Regions from separate parts of the Homo sapiens genome. Here region 1 is linked to region 2. A link means that fine-mapping ties the variant in region 2 to the expression of a gene that starts in the linked region. Tissue or cell type: whole blood. Region 2 holds a variant in brackets; the other region holds the start of a gene. All regions are shown on one strand. Distances are from middle to middle.

What was found. PIP is the estimated chance that this variant, and not a neighbour inherited with it, causes the effect. A credible set is the group of variants that fine-mapping cannot tell apart.
Region 1: KRT8 starts here. The variant in region 2 is the best candidate, but not a certain one, in a credible set for the expression of KRT8 in whole blood (TOPMed, PIP 0.88).

Annotation. Positions count from the first base shown.
Region 1 is chr12:52,903,283-52,907,396 of GRCh38, forward strand. KRT8 (keratin 8) reads right to left here and starts at 1,794. Exons shown (of 8, transcript NM_002273.4): 1 at 1,376-1,794. The coding sequence starts at 1,699. RefSeq lists a silencer at 565-734.
Region 2 is chr12:52,964,965-52,969,078 of GRCh38, forward strand. No RefSeq gene overlaps it. Among named protein-coding and RNA genes, the nearest start is that of KRT18, 18 kb to the left of the region's middle. RefSeq lists an enhancer at 1-578. The variant C/T (reference allele first, on the strand shown) is at 1,783.

The DNA of each region.
Region 1 (4,114 bases), 62 kb before region 2:
GAGGAAATAAGACTTGGCAAGGGAGTCCATAACCAGGAACCGGCAGAGCAGTGCGAACCAAGAATTCAGATTCCAAAGCCTATGCTTAGCTGCTCTCTATAAGGACCCCAGGGCTAGCAAAACGCAGTCAACAAGTCAAGTCCAGGCGCTTGGAGCGCCAAGGGCCCCCGACCACTGGGTTCCTGGGGCTCCGGTTCCTCCCGGCTTACTCTGCCCCAGGATTTCCCTCCTCCCGTTCCCACAATGCCTCCCAGGAGCCAGTCAGCGTGAAGGGCCCAATCCTCGGGGCCGCCGGGGGCCCGGGGCCCCTCAGGCAGCGGAGTCCCAGGGCTGCAAAACCCGGCCTGGCTCCTGCTGTGTGAAAGTGGAGCCAGGCCGCTGGGGCGGAGCAGGGACAGGACGCGAGAAAGGGACACGGGCTGAATGGGCGAGGGGCGTTGGTGGGCGACCGCGTTATCTGAAGCCATAAACTTAACAGGACGTAAACCCCGGGCGGGGCGTCCCACGCCCGCAGACTTTGAATCCTGCATGGGCTTTCCGAGGCCAGGCCCTGGCGCCTCCTCCACCCCACCCCAGCCCACCCCACCCCACCCCACCCCACCCACACCGCCCCCGACGCCGAGCTCCGCCAGGTGGAGGAGAGCGTCCCGAGACTGCTGCCCGCAGCCCCTCACCCCGCCCTCGGCCCCGCCCACGCTGCCGGCGCAGGGGCCGGGGTATGACTCATTCTGTGACCCCCGCACTCAGGCCTCCGGGCGCCAAAGGCCTCAATCAATATTTGCCCGTTTGAACCGAGACACCCACTTCCTTCTCCTAGAATGCTAGAATCACACCAAACCCCTATGTAAAAAAAAGAAAAGAAAGAAAAAAAATCACAAAGGCACCACTGGGGAGCCCTTGGGGTAGTGCTGGCGAAGAGGCGAACCTGGAGGAGGGTAGTCCCCGAACAGCTGGGACTGCCGCAGGGCGATAGCTTAAAAGACGGTCAGAACTCGGGTTGGGGTGAGAACAATAACCGCTATTATTTTTTATAATTTGGGGACAGAATGACCTGAGGAAGAACGGGATTTGTAGAGAGGGGTGGTGGGAACTAGGCTGTACCCTTAAGTTGTCTCTCTCTTCCAAGACCCTCCAGTTTAAAAGGGAAGAAGGAAGCCCCAGGATTCATCCCGGCTGTCCAGACCCTCTCCCCACCCTCACCCAGCCCAAACCAAGGTGCACGGGAGGGGTGAGTCGGAGGATGGAAGGGAGAGTGTCGCCAGGGCGGGTGAGGCCCAGCAGGACGCCAGCTGGGGGCTGGAGATGTGCATAGGGACCGGGACTACCAGGAGAAAGGGGCTGCGGGCACAGTCAGCCACGCAGGGGGGACCCTCACCTTGTCTATGAAGGAGGCAAACTTGTTGTTGAGGGTCTTGATCTGCTCCTTCTCCTGGGTGCGCACGGCCTGGATGTTGGGGTCCACCTCCAGGACAAGGGGGCTCAGCAGGCTCTGGTTGACCGTAACTGCGGTGATGCCTCCCATGCCGCTGGCCCCACCATAGCCGCCGCCCAGGCCACCGCGAAAGTTGCTGCTGCCCACTCGGGAGAAGCTCGAGGAGCTGATGCGGGAACCGGGCCCACTCGTGTAGGAGCGGCTGCTGAAGGCCCGGGGGCCAGAGGTGGACACCTTGTAGGACTTCTGGGTCACCCTGATGGACATGGTAGAGGCAGGAGTGGAGGCAGGCGGGCCGAACCAGGCGGAGATCCTAGAAGGAGCGGAGAAGCTGCTTCTTGGTGAGGAGAGCTCTCAGGAATGGCCTTTTATAAAAGAGATCCCAGCCCCGGGGGATGGGGGGGAAAGGCCTCGTACCTGAGTGGCTAGGCCCAGAGGGGGCTGGGCCTAACCCGTCACCTGCCACCTCCGGGCAGGACTCAGGTGGGGGCAGCAGAGAGCTGCCGCCACCCAAGGGCCCGTTCCAACCCTGGAGCCCACTCCAGCACCACCCCCAGAAACCCAGGAAAAGGCAGTTCAGTGAATATGAAACTGGAAGAAATCCTGTCCTGGCACAAGTGCCTGTAACAAGCAGACTTGCCTGGGCCGCCCAGCCACTACAACCCTGACTCCTGGGTCTTGTCTCCCTCCCTCCTGGGGGAAATAAACTGGAGGACTGGGAAGCATGGGAAAAAGGGGTCTCCTAGTATTTGGGTCTCCTCTGAGCTGCCGACACCCCAGAGAAACTCTCCTGTGTTCTCCCTGATTGAAGCGATTATGAGGGCCTGCCTGAGCTGGATGACAGAACAGCTGGAGTCCAAAGCCTTGAATCTGAAATCAACCATTTGCCTCATCTTTCCAGGTTACTGTTCTACCCCTAGCACCTGGTGCAGTGCCAAGAGGGTCTGGGTAGATATTTGTGGAATGAATGAATGAATAAATAAATGAGTGAATAAACATCACACGCGCACACACACACACACACACACACATACACATACACACACAGTGGCTGTCGTCCCTCTACATCTGAAGGTGCAAGATAAAAAGAGATCCAAGGCCAGGCACGGTGGCTCACGCCTGTAATCCCAGCACTTTGGGAGGCTGAGGTAGGCGGATCACGAGGTCAGGAGTTCAAGACAAGCCTGACCAACATGGTGAAACCCCATCTCTACTAAAAATACAAAAATTAGCTGGCCATGGTGTAATCCCAGCTACTCAGGAGGCTGAGGCAGGAGAATCACTTGAACCCGGGAGGCAGAGGTTGCAGTGAGCTGAGATCGTGCCACTGCACTCCAGCCTGGGCGACAGAGCGAGATTCCATCTCAAAGAAAAAAAAGAGCGAGATCCAACACAGCACTTTTCCTGAACATAACCCAGGGGCTTCCTCTCCTTCCAAGATCCTAGGATCCCCTGGGCCAGGTGAACACTGTAGGCCTCACTGAAGGGCCTAGAGAATGATGAACAGGGCTAGAAGGCAGAGAACGCAGGGGTTGGGGGGGGCAAGAGGAGATGGGAGCTATGTCAGGGACTTCATAGTTCTTGCTCTTTGCGGGAGTCACTCCCATTGCTCCCAGTGAGTGAATCATGGGAAGTGAGACAGGACGGCAGGGGGTACAGTGGAGTGGTGTGGCACTCGTGGTGCTACCTGGACCCTCCTGCTTTACCCAGGCTCCCAACGGGCCAGAGGAAATAGAGGAAGAGTCCCTGCACCTGTCTCCCATTATCAAAGTGAGTCAGGAGGGCAGGTTGGGACGTAGCACGCACCTGTGGGAGGTTGGAGATTGGGGAGCTGAGCAAGGCACCCCAGGCCTGGGTGGGGCCAGGCAGGGCATGCTGTGGGTGGAAGGCAGGAGGTTTAGGTCCCCAAGGCAGAGATTCCACCTGCAATTACCTGATGGCTGGGGCTGGGTTCTCTGGAAGATACTGCAGGGTGTGATGTGGGGACTGGATGAAACTGAACTCAGAGGACCAACAGATGACAGCCAGATCCCCTTGAGGAGAGGGACAGGTGACATAGCCCTGACCCAGGGAAGGGGGTGACCACCTACTGGGAGGACAGATGTACAGTTTCTTCCCCATCCTTCTCTAGGAGAGACACCCAGGCTCACAGAAAGACAGGCACATAGGACCCCTACCCAGAAGGACAGAGAGACCCAGAAGCCCCCTCCTTGGAGGACAGACAAACTTAAAAAGACAGACACACAGACAAGCTCTCTTCACAATGCACGCGTGCATACACACACACACACACACACACCCCACACATTGAAGTCCCTTCCAGAAAAATGCATAGATCCCAAGAGCGGGCACAGTGAGTGGCTCCTTCACCTCCCCTCCCCTCCCCAGGCCCTGCCTCCTGCTATGCTGAATGGAGCAAGGGAAATTCAGTTAGCACCTATTTACACCAGGCCTTCTCCCAGCTCCTTTAAACAATGCCTAATTTTCCCAAGAGTGATTGGAAGGCATGCTACCCCCTCCCCAACAAACACCCGCACCCACCAGGGCTGAGAAGCTTTTAACAGAAGACCAAAGGGAGAAGGACTGGGCCCAGTGCCAAACCTGGGACAGGGAAGGCGGAAGGAGGGAGGGAGGGGCTGGTCAGACGGGTATGGCAGCCCTGGAAAGGGAGGACAGGCGCTC
Region 2 (4,114 bases):
GGGTCCTAAAAGCTTGACATATATTAATTCATTTAATCCTCCCAACAATCCCAAGAATGCACTCTCTTTAGCCCTATTTTAGGAGCGAGGAAATGAAGGAGCTGAGAGGTTAAGGGACTTGCCCAGGAACGCCAGTTCGCCAGTGGCTTGCCAGGGATTTGAGCCTGGAGAGTCTCACTCTCTGTCCGCATCTCAGTCGCGCTGATCTCGGCCACACGTAGGTCCATAGGCTGGTCCTCCCTCACGAGTGGCCTCCGCGAGCCCCTGGCCCCTGGAGCGCCCTCCTCCCAGCCACCAGACCCTCTGAGGCCTGACTCCTGGCTAGGCGGGGCTAAGGGGCGAGGAGAGCTGGGGGACAAAGCCCCTTTACGTCGGGGTGGGATTCCCCTTAAAGCCACTGCCAAGACGGAACAGGATGGGGGACAGAGAGGGACTGGGGGAAGGCGCCAAAGCCCGGGACCGAGGAGGAGAGGGGAGGAGGTGGACTCTACTCGAGGGAGGATCCGAGGGCGGGCAAGCGGAACCCTCCTCCTTAAAGATCTCGCAGTGAGGTTAGGGAGCTGCTCCCCGGCTCTGGGAAGCCGCTATCCTGCCCATACCCTCCTTTCTCTCCGCTGCTGCCCCTGCCTCGCTCCCGCGCGCTCCCATTGGGTGGTGCCTGGGTGTCCCCGGCTCGGCAGCTGCGGCTGCTTCCCAGCCCCGGGGTCTCAGGGCCGTCCCGCCGGTCCCAGGGCACCGCTCCTGTGCCCCACGCCGCCGCTTCCCCAGTTGCCCCCTGACTGCAAGAGTCTCCTGGTTTTCGGCTTGTCCTGGGACTCCTGGGAGAGCCCACCGAGAGTTCTGGGGCACCTGCAACCTCCCTCGTCTCCTAAGAGGGTGGGGGAGTTCTTTTCTAAATATCATAAACCTCAAGGGGAAAAACCAAGGGGTGTATGTGTGCACGTTTGGGGTAATATTTGAGTATTAAAAAACAACCTTCCTCCCAAAATAAATATATGAATAATAAAAAATTAGCCTGCCTTGGCCGGGCGCAGTGGCTCACGCCTGTAATCCCAGCACTTTGGGAGGCCGAGGTGGGCGGATCACGAGGTCAGGATATCGAGACCATCCTGGCTAACACGGTGAAGCCCCGTCTCTACTAAAAATATAAAAAATTAGCCGGGCGTGGTGGTAGGCGCCTGTAGTCCCAGCTACTCAGGAGGCTGAGGCAGGAGAATGGCGTGAACCCGGGAGGCGGAGCTTGCAGTGAGCCGAGATCTCGCCACTGCACTCCAGCCTGGGCGACAGAGCGAGATTCCGTCTCAAAATAAATAACCAAATTAATTAAATTAAATTTAAAAATTTAAAAAAATTAGCCTGCCTTGGTGGTGCGCACCTGTTATCCCAGCAACTCGGGAGGCTGAGGCAGGAGGACTGCTTGAGACCAGGGGTTGAAAAACAGGCTGGGCAACAAAGTAAGACTCCATCTCTACAAAAAATTTTAAAATTCACCTGGCGTGGTCGCGTGTGCCTTTGGTCCCAGCTACACAAGGGGCCCAGACGGGAGGATTGCCTGAGCCCCAGAGGTTGAGGCTGCAGTGACCCATGTTTGCACCACTGCACTCCAGCCTGGGTGACAGAGTGAGATCTTGTCACAAAGATAAATAAATAAATAAGTAGAATGCAGAGCAATGAAACCCTCATATGTTGCTGGTGGGAATACAAAACGTGTACAACTACTTTGGAAAACAGTTGGGCCGTTTTTTCTAAGTTTAAAAATACACCTCCCAGCGCGGTGGCTCA[C/T]GCCTGTAATCCCAACACTTTGGGAGGCTGAGGCGGGCGGATCACGAGGTCACGAGTTCAAGACCAGCCTGGCCAATATGGTGAAACCCTGTCTCTACTAAAAATACAAAAAAAAAAAAAAAATAGCCAGGCGTGGTGGCATGCGCCTGTATTCCCAGCTACTTGGGAGGTTGAGGCAGAAGAATTGCTTGAACCTGGGAGGCGGAGTTTGCAGTGAGCTGAAATCTTGCCATTGCACTCCAGCCTTGGGCAACAGAGCAAGACTCTGTCTCAAAAAAAATAGTAATAAAAATAAAAATATACTTACCAGCTCGGTGTGGTGGCTCACACCTCTGATCCCAGCACTTTGGGAGGCCGAGGTGGGTGGATCACCTGAGGTCAAGAGTTCGAGACCAGCCTGACCAACATAGAGAAACCCCGTCTCTACTAAAAATACAAAATTAGCCAGGCGTGGTGGTGCATGCCTGTAATCCTAGCTACTTGGGAGGCTGAGGCAAAAGAATCACCTGAACCCGGGAGGCGGAGGTTGCAGTGAGCCAAGTTTGTGCCATTGCACTCCAGCCTGGGTGACAAGAGTGAAACTCCATTCTCAAAAAAATAAATAAATAAAATAAAATAAATAAACAGATGGTTCAAGTTTGGCCTCTCCCAGTAGGAATCCTCTTTGTGGCCTTCCTAACATCTGGCCTCCGTTTGAAGAATTTATGACAGTATAGCCCCTGTTGGATAATAATTGTATAATTACTGGAACATTATTGTTCCTTCTACTGGGCTGAAATCTGCCTCCTACTAACCTTCTAAACTCAGCTCTGCCCACTAGAGTTACACAGAACTCCCTCTTCCATTAGATTTCAGCCATAAGTGATTATTCTTCCCCTAACCTGTATAAAAGCAGCCCCAGTCACGGTGTAAGGATTTAGCTGCACTGCTGGCCTCAACCTCACCTGCCTGAATGAGCTGGAAAATAATTATCTACACAGAAACAGCCCAAGGAATTAGAATGATAGTGATGCTCAGATCCGGGGAGGCTGTGTCCCCCTGAAGGCCCTGGTCAGATCCTGGTGAAGTGGATGGTGCTGCCACAGGAGGGATGTAGGGTAAACTTCTCAGAGACTCAGGGCACTCCAGTGATCTGGGCCCAAAGCACACAGTTCCTTTTCCTCTCCCCACAATCCACACTGGAGCAGCAGGCTCTAGTGGGCCCCTCCCAGGCTGGCAGAACTTTCCCTATCACCCACTCCCCAGAAGCAAAAAAAGTTTAAAAAGCACCAGCCTAAGGCTGGGTGCAGTGGCTCATGCCTGTAATCCCAGCACTTTGGAAGGCTGAGGCGGGCAGATCACAAGGACAGGAGTTCAAGACGTGCCTGACCAACATGGTAAAACCCCGTCTCTACTAAAAATACAAAAATTAGCCAGGCATGGTGGTGCATGCCTGTAATCCCAGCTACTCGGGAGGCTGAGGCAGGGGAATTGCTTGAACCCGAGAGGCAGAGGTTGCAGTGAGCCAAGATCATGCCATTGCACTCCAGCCTGGGCAATGGAGCAAGACTCCGTCTCAAAAAAAATAAATTATTGTACATTTAAAAATAACTAAAAGAGTATAATTGGATTGTTTGTAACATAAAGGATAAATGCTTGAAGTGATGGATGCCCTGATGAGATTATTATGCATTGTATGCCTGTATCAAAATATCTCGTGTACCCTAAAATAGATACACATACTGGGTACCCACAAAAATTAAAAACTTTTTTTTTTTTGAGACAGAGTTTCACTCTTGTTGCCCAGGCTGGAGTGCACTGGCTCAATCTCGGCTCACTGCAACCTCCGCCTCCCAGGTTCAAGTGATTCTCCTGCCTCAGTCTTCCGAGTAGTTGGGATTACAGGCGCCCACCACCACACCTGGCTAATTTTTTTTTTTTTTTTTTTTTTTTGGATTTGGAGTAGAGACGGGGTTTCGCCATGTTGGCCAGACTGGTCTCGAACTCCTAACCTCAGGTGATCCACCTGCCTCGGCCTCCCAAAGCGCTGGGATTACAGGCATGAGCCACCAGACTCAGCCAAAATTAAAAACTTTAAAAAATAAATTAATAACCACAGCAGTAGCTAGTAGCTAATGGCTACCAGATTGGACAGGACAGTGCAGCACCAGACTGTAAGCTCCCTTTGAGCAGAGACTGGACTATCTTGTTCACTCTTATGCCCTGATACATAACACAATTCCAACACATAAACAGCAGGTTGTTATTTTCTTTTTTAAAGACAAAAATTTGAAATTGTAATTTTTATTAAATTGTAAATAAAATGTTATTTTATTTTATTTAATAACCTATA